2 linked regions of the Homo sapiens genome follow. The protein of the gene in region 1 interacts with the protein of each later gene in a pairwise test. Each region holds a gene or a part of one and is shown in the gene's direction. Other genes may lie near its edges.

Region 1 (3,252 bases):
TTTTGCACTGATGGAGTGGCAAATATCAGCTGGAGAGACATGGGAGATGCAACCTGAAAGGTGTACGCCATATTGAGATGCCTGGACTTCATCCTGTGAGCAGCAGAGTGTTTGGATAGATTCTGGGAAGTGAAAATGTTGGGGCAAAGGGGATGAATATTTGAAGTTTTTCAATACTGGACTTCCAATTTGCTTTTCAAAAGTTTATAATAATTTATATTCATCTAAGCAATCACGAGGGTCCCTTTATTGCATTCCTGCCTGCACTGAGTGCTCTCATTAAAAGCAATCTTTGTGAATTTGGTTGGAGAGTTTCTTGTTTAAACTTGCATTTCTTGGATTGAGTAGCTAGACGTTTTTCCATATGCTATTATCAAGTTGTTATTTCTCTTTCATCAATCTTGTTCATGTCCTTCACCTATGGGCCTATTTTTAATTTTCACAGCCTTTTCCTTATTTGTTTAGTTTTCCTCTTAGCTCCCTCTTCCCCCTTCCCAAACCTGGGTCAGTTCTTATCTATTTGTATGAGACCTTTATATGTTTAGATAGTACCCCTTTTACTTACATTTGCTGAAATGATATTTTTATTTCATCGTTTGAATTTTATTTGAGGTTTTTTGGATGCCTTTTCAACTTTGTTCATGGTGGGTTTTGTCAAATGGAAGTTTCTGATTTTTATGTAGTACAAACTCTCAGTCCTCTCCTCTGTGGTTTTGCCTCTGAGGTCATGCTTTGAGAAGTCCTCTCTTTACTCCAAGTTTTCATAAATATCCAGCAAGGTTTCATCCAGTACTTTTAGGTATAAGAAACAAAACCATAAATCTTCAATCCCTCTGGAGTTTAGGGATATGGTGTGAGCAGAGTATATTTTTGAGAGATACTAAGAAGTCCAGTTGGCCTGACTGGATATCAGTTAGATGTGTAAGAGGTGGATGTGAGGAAGGGTAAAAGAGAGAGGTCCGGAGGGGCTCCACAAACACGGGTCTGTTGAGGGTGATGCAGCCTGGTAATCAGCCCCTTCTGTGGCTTCTCATTCTGTGAGACGTTGGCTGTGCTGCATATTCTAAATCTACTCTTGTCCCTTCTGGATTCAGCTCTGTACCCCAGGAGAGATAAATTGATGTAAAGACTGCACAAATAGACACTTTTGCCTTCTGGCTTCTGGCTTGGGCTTGGCCAGCCAGTGTGGGGAGGGTGGCCACCTGCAAGAGAGGGCAGATGAGAGAGACAGAGATATTTATTCCCCAGCCCACGTTCCTCTGAAGAAAGCTACAGCTCCTGTCAGGCAGCCCCTCTCAAGATTCCTACAGCTCTCCCTTCCATCCCTCCCCACTCTGCTATCTCTATCAAAGTTGGTTCTCCTTGACCTTGCCTGCCGTTTGTTAATTGTCCCTTCATTGGACATTCTTTGGTTTGCCTGATTGGGTGTGCCACACTTTCCTGCCAGGACTCTGACTCACACAGAACTGGGCTGCCCTTGAGAATGGCTAGGTTGCCCCATGAGAGCACCAAGTGCTGCTACTTGGAACTGGTTTGTGGTCAGTTCCTGGAAAACCAAAGCTTGCTTCTTTGAGGTAAGCTAACTCATGCCCCAGAGTCAGACTCCAGGAGACCACACTAGTTCCAGTTGAAGGGAGTGGCCTTCCAAAGCCTGGCTTCTACCACCCCCACCTGTCTGCCTCTACCCATGATAGATCTGCTTCCAATCAGAGACTTACTCTTCTACACAATTTAATGCAGGTAAATGCCAGTGCTAAAAAGATGCCATATGATAGAAAACAGAAGGTTTGTCCATTCTGAAAACATTGTGTTCTCTTTCCTCCTGTTTTAACTCCCTCTTCCCCAAACACATTCTGCAAAATTCTACCTCTAACCTTTTTTCCTTCTATTCTCAGTCCCCTGCAATGGCACTTGCAATCCTCACCATACTCTGTCTAAATTCTAGCTTTACTTTAAGACAAAAATTAAATTCTGCCTACTGAGAGAAGCTCTTTGTCAACCCCAGGCACTTGACATTTCTATTTTCTTTGACTTTGTAAAGCACTTACTACTTCAACCAATCATTTACTATTTAACAATAATAAATACTATTTACCTAGTGTTCACTGTGGGCCATTTCAGGTTTCATTTATTCCTTGAAAATTTTTCCAAGGTGAGCACAATTATCCTCTTTTCATAGAGGCTCAGACATGTTAGGTAACGGGTACAAGATCACACTTTGCAAGTGAGCAAATGGAAAGTTAAATTCTGTCTTCCTTGAAATTGCTATGTTGTCTTTTCTTTTTTATTTAAGGTGTACAGCATGATGTTTTGATACAAATATACATAGTGAAATGATTACTACAGGCAAGCAAATTAAAATATCCATTACCACGATAGTACTTTGTGTATGTGTGTCTGGTGAGCACCTAAAATCTACACTTTCAGCAAATTTTTAGTGTACAATATAATTATAGTCACCATGCTGTACATGAAATCTCTAGACCTGTTCATCTTGTATAATTGCAAGTTTGTGTATCCTTTGACCTACCTCTCCCCATTTCCTGATCCTTCCCACTCTGGAAACCACCATTCTTCTCTGTTTCTATGTATTTGACATGTTTTAGATTGCACAAATAAATAAGATCATGCAGTATTTCTCTTTCTGTGTCTGGCTTATTTCAGTTAGCATAATGTCTTCCAGGTCATCCATGTTGTCACAAATGGCAGTATCTTATTATTTTTTAAGGCTTAATAACATACCATTGTGTGTGTGTGTGTGTGTGTGTGTGTGTGTGTGTGTGTGTGACAATTTTTTCATTCATCTGTTGGCAGACACTGGTTGTTTCCATGTCTTTACTATTGTGAATAATGCTGCATCGAACATGTGGGCACAGATGCCTTCTGAGATGGTGGTTTCATTTTTTGGAGGTATATATCCAGAACTGGGATTGCTGGATTGCATGGTAGTTCTACTTTTAATTTTTTGAAGAATGTCCATACTGTTTTCCATAATGGCTGCATGAATCTACATTCCCACCAACAGTGCACAAGCACTGTCTTTTCTCTACACCCTCACCAACACTTGTTATCTCCTGTCATTTTCATAGTAGTTACCCTCATAGGTGTAAAAGGATATTTCTTTGTGGTTTTAATTTGCATTTCCCTGATGATTAGTGATAATGAGCACCTTTTCACGTACCTTTTGGCCATTTTCATGTCTTCTTTAGGAAGATGTCTATTCAGGTCCTTTGCCCATGCTTTAATCAGGTT
Region 2 (3,753 bases), on another chromosome or scaffold:
TCAGTTGTGGTCAGGGGTTATTGGTTGCAAGGAAAAGAGACCCATTCATGGTAACTTAATTAATAATGAGAATATTAGTAACATTTATTGACCACGTACTGTGTTCCAGGGATTAGCCTAAGGCTTTATGCAGAGTATTTCATTTAATCCTCACAATACTTCAATAAGGTCGGTTCTATGGTTATCTCTATTTTACATATGAGGAGACTAAGACACAGGAGGTTAACTTGTCAAAGTCACACAAAGAGAGGTAGTAACCAGTATTTGAACCATGAAAGAGAGATTCATTGTAAGGATATAATAGGGAATTTCCTGCCGGTTCCAGAACAATCAATAACAGGAACCCTCTAAGCTTCAGTTTCCCTGTCTATAAAGTTAGGATATAATAAATAGTACCTCCTTCGGAGACTAATTGTCAGGAGCAAATGAGATAAAATAGAAACAAATGTTCAGTGCATTTCCCATCACGTCGTAAATGCTTAGCAAATGTTAGCTGTTAATAATTAGAAAGGGGGCTGTATTAGTCTGTTCTCATGTGCTAATAAAGACATACCTGAGACTGGGTAATTTATAAAGGAAAGAGGTTTAATGGATTCACAGTTCCACATGGCTGGGGAGGCCTCACAGTCATGGTGGAAGGTGAATGAGGAGCAAAGTCACATCTTATATGGCAGCAGGCCAGAGAGGTTGTGTAGGGGAACTCCCCTCTGTAAAACCATCAGATCTCGTGAGACTTAATTCCCTATCACCAGAACAGCACAGGAAAGACCTGCCCCCGTTACTCAATTACTTCCCTCCAGATCCCTCCTATGACGCAGGGGAATTATGGGAGCTATAATTCAAGATGAGATTTGGGTGGGGACACAGCCAAACCATATCAGGGGCTGATCTCAGTGGATCCAAGCTTTCCAAAGTGTTTTGGGAGTTAAGAGTGCAAGTATGCCCCAAACGGTCCCCAAAGAAGTTAAAGGCTTGGAGAGGGACTGGGGACAGTGGACAGAGGGTCTGGGGTGTTCTGGCCAGAAAGTGACAGGCCCTCGCCCACTCCTGCCCCCAGAGGCTTTCCTGATCCCCACCCCTTACTATGGCGCTATCACACAGCACGTGTGTCTCTATGGCAACATCCGGCTGGCCTATGTCTACCTGGACAGTGAGGTAAGAGTCTTGACTTCCTAGGTGGAACCTGGGCCTGCCTGTGGTCAAGAGTTTCCTGGGTCTGAATTTGAGGGTGGTCCATGCTGAGGGCTCTGGGGTTGTGATGAGTAGGGAATGGAGCCTTCTGTTGCTGCATGGCTGCCTGTGCCTGGGTTCCCCAGTGGCTCCAAAGTTCCAGTCTCTGAGATCCCTGGGGTTGATGTAGAAGCCAAGAGCCAGACCCAGAAACAGCAAGGTAGGAACAGAGCAGGGTAGACCTAAGCATGACACCCAAGAGTGATGAGGGGGTCTCTGAAGTGATGGGTTGGGGGTGGATGGCAGTAAGAGGGAGGGACCCCACCTGCTTTTCCAGAGACTCTTCTGAGGAGGCTGGGGATTACAGGGGAGGAGAGGCCTGAGAGTTCATATGTATTTTGGGGGGCAATGGTCACTGAATGTGGCTGGTGGCTCTGATGGGTCTTTTTCCAGGTCACTGGGCTAGACACACGCCCCTTCCAGCTCACAGTGGAGAAGCTGGAGATGGCCCTGAGAGAAGCTCACTCTGAGGTCTGGGGATCAAATCAAACCTGAGGCTGGGTGTGGGTGGGTCTGAGCAGGGTCTGGACCCCTCTTCTTGTGACTGATCTCCTCCCGGGAGTAGGGTTGATACCCGGTGATTGGGACAGACAGGTAGGGTGGTAGCACAGAATTATTCTGGGAGTCAGGCAGAACCCTGCCCAGGGAGGGTCTTCCCTTTCAAAACAGACTCTCAGACCTCAGTTCACAGAGAATCAACCAGGGAGCATCACTAAAGATACCCCCATCCCTGATCCATCTGATTATGATTCAGTGGGTCAAGTATGGAGTACAGGAGTCTGTGGTTTTACAAGTCTCCCTGGTAGTTTGAGGGGGCAACCTTGCTCACTGTGGGGGGAGCTGAGGACTCCCAAAGGAGAGCAGAGACCAGTATTCCAGTGGTTCCTTTCCAGCCTACTTTTCAAAAATCTACTTAATTTTTTTTTACTTCTGTCATGAAAGCTATACATACTCACTGTAGGAATTTTGAAAGTGCAAAAGGCCAACCCAAAATTCTACCAACAAAGGTAACCTACTGGTATTTGGGTATATTTTTTCTCTGGGCCTTGTCCTCCGCCTTTATCTGATGCTGCAGATGTAATTCTGTGTTCCGCTTGTTTGCTTCATGTTGTGTTATGAACATGTCCCCCTCAAATCTCCCTGGGAGCCTTCCAGCGATCAGCCCCCTTTGACTGTGTGGCTCTGGCCTTGGGGAAGAGCTGAGGGTCTCCTGCCCTAACGGATGGTTTCAGGGTGTGAAGGTCAAAGGCCTCATCCTCATCAGCCCCCAGAACCCTCTGGGTGATGTATACTCCCCTGAAGAGCTACAGGAGTACCTGGTATTTGCCAAGAGGTGAGGCACCCCACACTGGCCCCGACAGAGCGTCTGGGCAGCCTGGGGTTCCAATGCGGGTTTGGTGCAGGTTTTTCTACTCTCTTGACCCCACTGTGGGCTGCTACTTGCTTGGGCCCTTCCTTGGCAGTGGAGCGGGGAAGCAGGGATTTGTGGGATGCCCATTCCTCTTTATCTTTCACTCTTTATAACAATAGCTATCAATTAGCGCACACTCTAGGGGCCAGGCACCATGCTAAGCACTTTATGTGCCTCATACAATCCTCACAACAATGCTATCATACAATCCTCACAACAACCCTTTATGTGCCTCATACAATCCTCACAACAACCCTCATACAATCCTTACAACAATCCTTACAACAATCCTCACAACAACCCTACTGATGCTGTTATCACATCCAGCTCACTGAGCCTTAGAGTGGTCAAGTGAGGGGTGGATCCAGACTTGAACCTGGGTCTCTCCGACTCGAGCCCTTGTGCATGACCTTGCCCCTCCATGGAGGTGCCCGGGAGATCCTTTTCTCCCCTGCAGTGCTTCAAAAGCTCCTCTGTCACCTGCTCTGTATGTGTGGCTTTCTGTTTGAAAAAAACAGAAGAAAGAATGGTGTTCTTGGAAAAACAAGTTTGGTAACCCCGGGCTAGACCCCGGCCCCTCTGGATTTCTGATGTATTACCTCCCCACCCTGTGGGACGCATCTGCCCTACACACTAAGTCTCTCCTCCCCACCCCTGCCTCACTCCAGGCACAGGCTGCATGTGATTGTGGATGAGGTCTACATGCTGTCCGTGTTTGAGAAGTCTGTTGGGTACCGCAGTGTCCTAAGCCTGGAAAGGTGAGGCTCCCTGACACAGCTAACTCCCCCAGTCCCTATTATCCCACGGAGCCCTGGCCACTTTCTGGCTCAGCCCACAGGGCATGGCCTGCCCAGAGCAATTCCATTTCCACCCAGCTGGTCCCACTGGTCCTCAGATCTAATGAGAAGCAGGGACGGTTGGGCTAGATTAGTGATTTTCAAGTTGTTCTGTGGAATTTCTGAGAACTCCAAGAAGAGGCCTCAGGATCCCTTAAGTTAGGGCTGAGTGGATGGCAAATTGGCCTCTTTGCTGTTTCCTTTACCTCCAGAGTCGCTCCAGTTTTATTCATTCATTCATTTACTCATTCATGCTCTCATTCACTCAGCACCTCT

Evidence for each region.
Region 2: the proteins of UQCRB (region 1) and ACCS interact in binary tests that used the Homo sapiens proteins (3 or more experiments, as listed by UniProt).

The regions. Positions count from the first base shown.
Region 1 is NC_000008.11:96,222,330-96,225,581, reverse strand, and holds the end of UQCRB (cytochrome b-c1 complex subunit 7), read left to right. Parts: 3' UTR 1-2,635; downstream 2,636-3,252. UniProt on the Homo sapiens protein: Component of the ubiquinol-cytochrome c oxidoreductase, a multisubunit transmembrane complex that is part of the mitochondrial electron transport chain which drives oxidative phosphorylation.
Region 2 is NC_000011.10:44,076,222-44,079,974, forward strand, and holds part of ACCS (1-aminocyclopropane-1-carboxylate synthase-like protein 1), read left to right. Parts: intron 1-1,057; coding exon 1,058-1,155; intron 1,156-1,316; coding exon of another isoform or gene 1,317-1,340; exon of another isoform or gene 1,341-1,623; coding exon 1,624-1,701; exon of another isoform or gene 1,702-2,462; coding exon 2,463-2,563; exon of another isoform or gene 2,564-3,309; coding exon 3,310-3,399; exon of another isoform or gene 3,400-3,753. UniProt on the Homo sapiens protein: Does not catalyze the synthesis of 1-aminocyclopropane-1-carboxylate but is capable of catalyzing the deamination of L-vinylglycine.